3 linked regions of the Homo sapiens genome follow. The protein of the gene in region 2 interacts with the protein of the main gene of each other region in a pairwise test. Each region holds a gene or a part of one and is shown on either strand. Other genes may lie near its edges. The genes, in order: DEF6, BEGAIN and KIAA0408.

Region 1 (3,653 bases), on a different chromosome or scaffold from region 2:
CTTCCCACAAACAGAAGCCAGGACAAATGTGAGTGGAGCTTGACATGCTAGGGCTTCTTGTAAGTACAGAAGCCCCCTCTCCTGTAAACCCCACTCTAAAGACCTAAAGTCACCCTGGCATCTCCACAGCCACCAAGAGGACTAAAGGGTCACAAGGCCAAATGGGCAGGGGAGGGAAGTGAGGATAAGAGGGAGGGTACAGGTGGATGGGAAAATGCCTTCCCTGGCTTCACCCAGGAGTAAGGAGATAGGGACCAGATTCCCAGCCTTTTCTCCCAGGATGCCCTATCCCTGGGTCTCTTAGCTGAGTTTGTCCTGGCTTTCCAGAAGAAAGGCAGAAAGGGAAAATCTGGAACCAGAGTAACCTCCTGTCTCAGAAAGGTCTCCCCTTGCCTTGTAAAGCATCCTTCCTGTCCTGGAAGAAGTGGCAAAAGGTAAAGGAAAAAAAAGCACCCTTCCTAGATTGCCAGTAATGCTCAGTAATGTATCTGGCATTTAGACCTCTGTGTAAACAGAATTTGCAGATCATTTTCCTACAGTGAGGACCAGCAGAACCCTCATGAAAGTGTAATTTCAGTTTTCCTGGAAGAAGGCAAAATTACTCTGACACAGGCAGTTCTAGGCATCTGGAGACAGCTGGGTGAGGACAGATACCAGCATGGGAAGATGGTAAAGAAAGAAAGGGGATATGGGAAGGCACCAAAGGTGGTTTGGTCTCATTCATGGTTTTGCTTAGGTCTGGTCCCAAGTGATTCAGTCCCTGGGGCTGCCATCACCCTCACCTCATCAGGAACCATGATCAGAGGGTACTTGTCCTCAGACAGGAAGTTGAAGAGGCACCAGAGGCGGAAGGCATCCTGATTGGAGAGCATACTGTTCCCGTTGCTATCTGCCCGATAGTTCTTCTTGGCCGTCAGCGTCCAGCACAGCTCATCAAAGTGCTCTTTAACAAAAGCCCCCTCCTCCACCTGCCACCAGGGCTGCAAATCAGCTGACTGCATATCTCAGCTCTACCACGACACTAGGCTCCAGCTGGGTTTCTTGGGTTCATCTATGCCCCTGCTCCCCACCTGGCCAAGTCCAGGGCCCTAACTCAAGGGATCCCTGAGCTGATTACCAGGTAACTAGCTGGTTCCAACCACTCCACCCTCCACAACACACCCACACCCACCCAGGCCCCCTGACAACAGATTAACTCTAGTCTTTCAGCCCAGAGGACAAAGAAGGAGAAACCCAGCAGGAAGCTAAGAGCCAAGAACCTGGAAACACAGTGACAGATTGGAGGAGTTGGAGGGGGAGTTCAGGGGGACAGTCTGGGAAGGGTGGAGAACCCTGGAAGCTGGAGGAGGGCCGGGCAGGGATTCGGTGGAAGGTTATGGGTAGGGTGGGGCCCACCTCATTAGAGATGAGGGACATTGAAGGTGAATTGAGGGGGACAGGAAGGGGGCAGGTGGCTGGGATGTGAGGGACGTGATGGGACAGCAGTCACGGACAGAGCAGGCAGAAGTAGGAGTTTATGGCAGGGGCGAAGAGTTGGAGTGGCAAGGTATTAGGCTGCTGGCCAGGCTGGAAAAGTGGGGAGAGGTTACAGATGCTCCCTACAAGCTGGGCCCCACCTTGTCCAGGATGTACTTGTTGAGGTAGGGCATGTATCCCTGGCTGGACACAGGGCCGTCATCATCATCTCGGAAGTGTTCCTCCAGGGCCACGGGGTCATGGGGGATGTGCAGGACCGTGTACAGGTTGTGGGACAGCACCTGGGATAGAGTAGAGTGGCAGTGTGTCTTTCTGCACCCCAACCAAAACTGGGCCAGAGGACTGCTCCCCACCTCTCTGCTTGTCCTCACCCCATCCTGGCTGAGTTCTCTACACACACTGTTCAGTTCAGTAATAACTAAAACTTATATACTATGTGCCAAGCACTGAGCTAAAGTACTTTACATATCATTTGCTTAACCACCATAACAACTACTCATATACCCATTTTACAAATGAAAACTCCTGCAGCCCTGAGATATTTCTCACCCAAGGTCACAGCTGGCAGAACTGGAATTCAAACCCATGCAGTTATACTCTTAGCCACTTCATTAGGTATTGGTGTCCTCTTTCTACAGACAGGGAGACTGAGGCTCAAGGGATTCAGTAACTTGCCAAAAGACCCACACTGAACAAGAGCTTGGAGTTCAAATCCATCTCCATCAGATTCCAAAGCCCAAGTGCTTCCCACAATGCTAGACAGTTTGCAGGGTTTGCAGGGACTTAGTCTGCCACCCCAGGGCAGAAGCTGCCAATTTATCATGGTTTCCATCAAAGACTCAGTGTCCTGGCTGCAGTGTGCCTATCACCTAAGCGTGTCTGCTCTGGGAGAGGAGAGGGCTCAAAGAAGGGTCATGAAAAATGGTCCATGACATGGAGAGGGCAAGGCTTAGAAGGGATAGTGGTCATAATGGTGTGCAGGGGAAATGTGGGTTTGTTGAACAAATCCATGATATTAGAATAAAGGGGTTGAAATCTGAAATCTGGTGAAAATAAAATCTCCTTGGGGTAATTCTATTATAGCATTTGTCACAAGCAGTGTAAATGATTAAAAAGTCACTAGTTACTATTGCACACTTACCATATGCCGGTCACTGTAGGAGGTGGTTTATTTAATTAAAACTGTTTTTTATTTTATTTTATTTTATTTTATTATTTTATTTATTTTATTTTATTTTATTTTATTTTATTTTATTTTATTTTATTTTATTTTATTTTGAGACGGAGTCTTACTCTGTCACCCAGGTTGGAGTGCAGTGGCATGATCTCAGCTCACTACAACCTCCACCTCCTGGGTTCAAGTGATTCCCCTGCCTCAGCATCCTAAGTAGCTGGGATTACAGGCACCCACCATCACATTCAGCTAATTTTTGTATTTTTAGTAGAGACAGGGTTTCACCATGTTGGCCAGGCTGGCCTCGAACTCCTGTCCTCAGGCGATCCGCCCACCTCGGCCTCCCAAAGTGCTGGGATTACAGGCCTGAGGCACCATGCCCGGCCAAAACTTTTTTTTTTTTTTTCGGTAGAGACAGAGGTCTGCATATGTTGCCCAGGCTGGCCTTGAACTGCTGGCCTCAAGTGATCCTCACATCTGGACCTTCCAAAGTGCTGGGATTTCAGGCATGAGCCACTACACCCAGTCAAAGCGCTTTTTATACCCCATTTCTAGTCTTCACAATCACCTATATACGCAAATATTATTAAGCCTGTTTTTCAGGTGAAGACACAGAGGTTTGGAAATTTTAAGAGTAAATGGCAGAGCTGAGGTTGAAACTAAATGTGCCTGGTTCACAGGTTGCCTTCCTACTAGAATACTGATGTCAAGTCTCCCTCCTCCGTTGGATTGTGAACTCTGGAGACAAGGTCTCTGTTCATCTTTATGTCCCTCAGCATCTATGTCCTCTTTTGTACATCAAGTGCAATCAATACATGCTATATTGAAGGGCTTCTTCCACCACCAGCAGTTCACCTTGGAATCAGTTCCTAGGAGGCAGGAGCTAGCACTGTCTCGGAGATGGTGTGTGTGCCAAGCCTTCATTTTATTCTCTTTTCAGAGAGGAGGGGGAGAAAGTATTGAGACTTTGCCTCAGTGTCCTCCTGGGGCTCAGTTTTCCTTG
Region 2 (3,653 bases):
GGGAGACATGGACCTTGGCCAGTACGGCAGGAGTCAGGAGCTGCTGGGGCTCTTCTCTCCCCTCTAGCCAGGAAGGGAACTCAAAAGTGGCCCTTGCCTCAGCAGGCCTTGAGTCTGGAGGACAGTACAGCAGCCTCTGTGGTCTGCCTGGGGTGGGGATCAGCCAGGGCCCAGCTCTGAGCCAAGCAGGGGAATTGCAGTCATTGGTTCAATCAGCAAGCCCTGAGCCCAAGTCAGGGATGGAGATGGGTCAGGCCTGGGCTTTGCCTGGGGAAGCCAGACATGGAAGCCTGGTCATCCCACAGTGGGTGCATGCTGGGATTAAGAGGTGCATGAGGTGGAGAAGCAACGCAGGCATGCTGAAGGGGATGCATGGGTGGATGATACTGTATGGAAGGGAAGCACTAGCAGGATAGAGCAGCGGATGGATGGGTAGAAACCTAGAGGGATAGGCTGGGCGCAGCGGCTCACGCCTGTAATCCCAGCACTTTGGGAGGCCAAGGTGAGTGGACCACCTGAGGTCAGGAGTTCAAGACCAGCCTGACCAATATGGTGAAACCCCGTCTCTATAAAAATACAAAAAAAATTAGGTGGGTGTGGTGGTGTGCACCTGTAGTTCCAGCCATTTGGGAGGCTGAGACAGGAGAATTGCTTGAACCCAGGAGGCAGAGGTGAGGTTGCAGTGAGCCGAGATCGTGCCACTACACTCCAGCCCCTGGGCAACAGAGTGAGACTCCATCAAAAAAAAAAAAAAAAAGGAAGAAAAACGAAAGAGAGAGAGAGAAAGAAAGAAAAAAAGAAAAGAAAGAAAGAAAGAGAGAAAGAGGGATAGATGGACGGGAGGAGAGGTTGATGGATGTAAGTAGCAAGATAGGGATGGGTGGGTGGACAGATGGAAAAGTTGATATGGATACAGGACTGGATTGATAGAACAAAATATCAATGGATGATACATGGGTGGAGGGAGGGAGACTTCTGATACACAAGGCAAGATTGGTAGATGAATGGATGGAAGGATCTTTGGATGGATGGATGAAGGAATGGATACATAAATGGATACAGGTAGTGCCTGGATGTTGGGATGGGTGGATGAATACTTGAATACATGTCCATGAATGATGGACAGAGGAATGAATGGACACTGGAAGAGTGAGTGCATGGATAGGTGATGAGTGTATATTGACGGATGTGTGGATAGAGGCCTGAGAAGGCAGCTCAGTGCACAAATGGATACAAAGCAATGGATGCATGGATACGAGACACAAGTAACAGAGGAATGGACAGACATGGAGGGATGGGCAGGCGGACAGATGGAGACGGGAGTGAGAGGACCAGTGAACAGATGAGTGCCCATCAGCGGGTGAGGGACACAGAGACAGAAGGATGTGTTGGTGCGTGGATGGCACCTGTAAATGGGTGAGCGGTCACAGGGGTGGATGGTGAAGGACGGTTGGTTGAATGGGTGAAGCTTCAGGTCACTCATGCCTTGATTTCCCAGATGCCAGTGTTTTGCTCACAGACCCCCATGTCCCTCTGCTTCAGAGACATATACTACGCAGGCGCAGGGTCAGGAGGGGGCTGATCAGACAGGGAGACTTAACCCCACCTTGACTTTGGTGGGAGAAAAGCCAACCCAAACTAACAGCTATTTGGCCTTTCCAGGCCCGCTTTGCCCTGGAAGACCCACTCAGGAAATAAGGAAGAAGCAGTGAGACCTCTTCGAAAGGTCAGCGGCCAGCCGGGGTTCCTACAGGGGCGTCCTTGCCCAGGGATCTCCCTGGAAGACCTGGACAGCTGTGTACATGTCCTATCTGAGGAAGAGAACTGGGGCACCTGTGTTGGGTGCTGGGGACTGGGAGACATCAAGACCATGGCTGCCCTTGGAGATTCTGAGGCCAGCGTGGAAAATCCAGGGACAGCGGGGCAGGTGATTAGGAGCACAAGTGTGCGGATTCCCAGAGCCTCAGTGTCCTCAACTGCAAAAGGGGAATAATAATAGACACTTCTGACTGGGCGCGGTGGCTCACGCCTGTAATCCCAGCACTTTGGGAGGCCGAGGTGGGCCGATCACGAGGTCAGGAGATCAAGACCATCCCGGCCAACATGGAGAAACCCCATCTCTACTAAAAATACAAAAATTAGCTGGGCATGGTGGTGCGTGCCTGTAATCCCAGCTACTTGGGAGGCTGAGGCAGGAGAATCGCTTAAACCGGGGAGTCAGAGGTTGCAGTGAGCCGAGATCGCGCCACTGCACTCTAGCCTGGCAGCAGAGCGAGACCTGTCTCAAAAACAAAAGAGAAAAAAGAAAGAAAGGAAAAAAAATAAACTTCTGTGCTGGGACGAGGGGAAGGTTGGTGAAGGTGACCACACCTCTGCTGGCCTATGCTGCGGCCCCTGGCGCATGCCCGCACCATGGGGGTTTACCCGAGACCCCTCAGAGCCCAGTTTCCTCCTCCGTGAAGCGGGGTAGCTGCTCCTAGCTTTCAGGCCTGCTGTAAGAATGAAGCGAGGTGACGTTTGGCACTGTCAGCAGAAGCCCGGCATGCCTGCCCACTCGGCAGGGTCCTCCCAACATCCTGTGGCCTGGTCTTCCTGCTCCAATCCCAGCAGACAGTGGGCAGCCTCATGCCCCTTCTGTCCGAGCTGGCAGGGGCCAGCTTTCCAACCACAGGGGCAGTGTGTGCCAGGCAGCAGGAGAGGGGCTTGGGCATCTGGAGAGGAAACGGGTGTGAGTGCCTGACCTTTGGGGTTCTGTCCTGGGCCTGACATGCCCAAGCCATGTGACCTCCGACGGGTCACTGCACCTTTCTGAGACCCTGCTTCTTTTAGCAGAAAATAGAGCCTTTGGCTGTCCTGATGCACAGAGGCGGGTGGGGATTTGGGGTGATGACGCATGCACAGCACGGAGCTTGGCACGCAGGATGGGCTTGGGAAGCAGGACTGAATCAGATGAGTCAAGAGGCAGGGGCTGCGGTGCCAGGAGCCGGAAGCCCCTCCAGGAGAGGTTGTCCAGGCTGCTGGTAGGTGAGCAGGTCCAGGCCGTGAGCCCACGGTAGCCGGCAGCATCCTTAGAGCCTCAGGCCCAGGCGCCTGAGAGCCAGCAGGTTGTTATGACAACGGAAACTTGCCTGATGCAGCCTGAAACTCTGGAAGCAGCTCAGAGGACTGGTTGGCCAGAGCCCCCAGAACACTCCTGCAACCATGCGTGCTAGTGAAACGGCCACATCAGAGCCCCAGTGCTAATGAGTCCTGAAGTCCCTTGCTCATGCCACTTCCCAGCACTGCCATGGGCTGAGTACTGCCCCATGCCCACCTGACAGATGAGGAGGGGATGTGGCTTGCCCGCAGGCCTGTTGGAGTGTTGGAGAAGGGATTTGAACTTGGATCTGCCAGCCTCCAAGTCTCTTTCCCACTGGTAATAGGGCAGGGGCTGAACGGCTGCTGCTGGGGAAGGGCTGTCCGGGTGTAGAGGGGCGACTGTCGGGGACCATAGGGTGGGAGGAGGACACTGTGGCCTCCCGAGAGCCTGAGATCCCTCCCCTATATTCTCATCCTGTTTCCAGTCACAGTAGGCCCACACCAGGCTGGGGATGTTTGTGAACTGACAGCCTGAACCTGCTATGCCATTCATTCAGTCAGTCATTCAAGAACTA
Region 3 (3,653 bases), on a different chromosome or scaffold from region 2:
AGTAGGAAGAAAGCTGAAGAAAAGTAACTATTAAGCCCTTCCTCTAAAATAGAGCTGAGAAGGCAGGCATGTGGTGTATGATTAGGGATTAAAGGAGAATATATACTTCTTGTCCCTCTATAGTTTAGAAAATGTGTCCTGCTTGCTCCTTTAACCCCTCTACCCATACTCGGATTGGATCAACAAAGAGATTCCCTGGTCAAATCAGAATCCAAAACTCCAGCGCAATCAGAAACTGACCTGTAGTCCTAGGTCATTGCCTTCCAAATGTTTGGGAAGTTCAGTTCATAACAGTCTCAGACAATTCTAGCATCCAAGCAAAATAACTAAGGGATGCAGGATTAGTCTAGCCAATTTTTTAAAGCCATGTAGTTAAAAGAAGCTGCTGTCTGATTAAATTTATTACTGTCCAATAATTATTCTGACAATTCTATAGAGTTCATCTATGGTAAATATTAGCTTTATCAATTAGCAGGCATGAAATATGCTTTAAACATCAAATTATACCTCATAGAGATAACATCCCTTTCTGTATCAGAGAGACAAACGGGCTGTCATATTTTTTTATCTTGGAGAGTAGCTGTACTGCTGTTTATGTTTTGCTGCCTGTGCTATACAGCTCCATAACTAAACTAAAATTAAGAAATCAACACTTGGAAAAATAATCTCATGCCACAAGCATAAAAGATTGTATTTGTTTAACATTTATCACAAAGTTCTGTATGTTAAATCAGATGTAAATTATTAAGCCATGTACTAGAGAACTGTAGATTCCCAGGTATGCACATATATCTTCAGTGACTTTAAGTGATAATATCTAATGAGAGGATGCAGTGTTGGCTATTAAGATGCTCGTAGTTCCCTGTTCAGCCACTATCCACAGTCATTGCATTTGCTATGGCAAAACCAAGATGTTCATACTTGGATCATTTGAAATTTGAAATAATCCAGATAGAAATTCTGGATAGAACTTATAGACGTCTGGGGTTTTGTTTTGTTTTTTTCCACACTGTAGTCTCCTGCCTGTATCCTTTGGTAGAATAATCAGATAACCATTGACAAGGGCTGAGTACCAAGTAACATAGTACCTTTGTACAAAATAGTTTTCCATCAATAACATTGTTATTTGTTGATTCATACCTCACCTAAATCAAGAAAATTTAAGATGGCATAAAATTAGGTATGATATAAAATATGCAAAAACAAAAATGGAAAGATGAGCTGAAGACAGGAGGAAGGATCATATATGAAATGTACCAGTGAGTCTTTCTAGTAACTAACAAAAATTATCAGGTGCATATACCTTCAAATTCAAATGATAAGGCAAACTTATTTCCCAGGAATAGCACATTTTTCCCGGTTTTGCAACTAAAGCAATTTTGTTTTCACTCATGACTTCGCAAAAACAGGACAGTGTCACCAAGAGCATCCTTAGATTTAACATGTCACTTTTTAGGGTTCCTTCTTATATCCCTCAAGGTCAGCTCAAACCATAATGCCCGCAGAAGTTCAGTACAAATAATTTGGCAGGGACCAAACAATCAATTCATGGCTGCAGTTTGATGCTATCCTGACTTCATACAATAAATACTAATACATTTGTAAGCATTAGAAAAATAAATACACTGTATATTTTTCAGGCATCAACTCTAGTGCTTCTCTCAACTGAGTTATCGGTATGTATTAAGCAGCAATAAATCTATTATATTACTTGAATAATACATGTAGTGTAGATATTGATTGCGGCTGTTAAACATAGAGTCATTTGCTTTGATAGTCATCTGACAGTCTCTTTTGAAGTTTGACAAGCTTTTACATGACCCAAGCCTAAAGAGAAAGCCATTTCTTTCCTCTATTCAGAAGTGAACTGAATGAGTGTGTGCAGGTTCAACTAAGATCTCATAAAGAAGTAATCTGGATTCTACCTTAATACAGACTAATAGATGATCAAAGCCTTGCAGTTCTATTATATCACGTAGGGTATTGTCATATTTGTTTTAATCTGGATGAGAAATATTTTAAAAATGTGTATCACTTTGAGATTTTTTAAAAATCTCAGTAATATCTAGCCCTCACAATGTAATTGACCAACCAAAGGAAACATCTTTTGACTGACAAGTGACTGTTTAGGGAACAAGAATAAGTTGACTTACTATCTGAGATTGTCAAGCATTTAGACAGTTAAATGTTAGTGTACAAGTAGGACCAGACATTTGAAAACTATGACTTTAATGTTAAATTCTTGCATCTCTCTGAAAGCAATTATATAATATGGCCAGTAATTGATTCAGGTCATTCTAATTTTGTGACAGTGTTTCTGTATTTATATACAGATACAGATTTATTTTATTTTTGAATGATTGATTGCTAGTCAAAAGAATTAGCATCCATGTGTTGCCCTACTAAAAGTAGCCTTTATGTTTCATCAAACTTGTTCCAGCTAATCCATATTTTAGAGGCACTATTTGGAGGCCGAAGCATTAATACCCAGGAAGTATATTTTAATATGGCAAAGAGAACTCAAAGCGGTTTGCTTAGTATCAAGAATATTAGCAAAGTGAATTAGGGGAAAAGAAGTTTTAATTTTGTTTTGTTTTTCTTACAGCTTTGCCGGGAAGTAAAGCTTTGGAGGAAAATCAATATCAATGAAAGTGCTAAGATCATTGATCTTTACCATGAGAAGACCATTCCAGAGAAAGTGATAGAATCTTCCCCAAATTACCCCGATTTAGGACAAAGTGAATTTATAAGGACGAATCACAAAGATGGTCTGAGAAAAGAAAATAAAAGAGAGCAGAGCTTAGTCAGTGGAGGAAATCAAATGTGTAAGGAACAAAAAGCAACAAAAAAATCAAAAGTAGGGTTTTTGGATCCTTTGGCTACAGACAACCAAAAGGAATGTGAGGCCTGGCCTGACCTGAGGACTTCTGAGGAAGACAGCAAGAGCTGTTCTGGCGCCCTCAGTACAGTAAGTAAGATGTGATTGGCCTAGAACTGTTTCTAAAGAAATATTTACATTTCAAAGTGCTAACGGGCTGTTGCTTATATGTGTAAAGGCTCTTGAAGAACTTGCGAAGGTGAGTGAAGAATTATGCAGCTTTCAAGAGGAAATTCGAAAGCGGTCTAACCATAGAAGGTAGGCTGGTACATCTGATTATTTTAGATGGGTAAATAAAAAATAATATTGTTTTTAGTTAATGACTCCAAACTGCCTCCTCCTTACATGTAAGAACTAATGAGTTATTAAAATGTACTATCTAGGGTGGGAGATAGAAACTTTAATTTTTTGTTTGCTCGTTTGTTTTTGAGATGTTATCTTGCTCTGTCTCCAAGGCTGGAAAGCAGTGGCATGATCTTGGCTCACTGCAGCCTCTGCCTCCCAGGTTCAAGCGATTCTCCTACCTCAGTCTCCCAAGTAGCTGGGACTACAGGCACACACCACCACGCCCAGCTAGTTTTTTTGTATTTTTAGTAGAGACGGGATTTCACCATGTTGGCCAGCATGGTCTCGAACTCCTGACCTCAAATAATCCCCCTGCCTCAGCCTCCCAAAGTGCTGGGATTACAGGCGTGAGCCACCACGCCAGGCCAGAAACTGTAATTGTATATTTCTCTGTTCACTAATTCTTAAAGCAAATCTTCCAATTCTCTTT

What was found.
Region 1: the proteins of BEGAIN (region 2) and DEF6 interact in a two-hybrid assay, tested with the Homo sapiens proteins (one large-scale study listed by BioGRID and IntAct).
Region 3: the proteins of BEGAIN (region 2) and KIAA0408 interact in a two-hybrid assay, tested with the Homo sapiens proteins (one large-scale study listed by BioGRID and IntAct).

What each region holds. Positions count from the first base shown.
Region 1 is NC_000006.12:35,307,774-35,311,426, reverse strand, and holds part of DEF6 (differentially expressed in FDCP 6 homolog), read right to left. Parts: intron 1,758-3,653; coding exon 1,617-1,757; intron 969-1,616; coding exon 783-968; intron 1-782.
Region 2 is NC_000014.9:100,580,797-100,584,449, reverse strand, and holds part of BEGAIN (brain-enriched guanylate kinase-associated protein), read left to right. Parts: intron 1-3,653. UniProt on the Homo sapiens protein: May sustain the structure of the postsynaptic density (PSD).
Region 3 is NC_000006.12:127,449,305-127,452,957, reverse strand, and holds part of KIAA0408 (uncharacterized protein KIAA0408), read left to right. Parts: intron 1-1,640; exon of another isoform or gene 1,641-1,676; intron 1,677-2,605; coding exon 2,606-2,968; intron 2,969-3,056; coding exon 3,057-3,136; intron 3,137-3,653.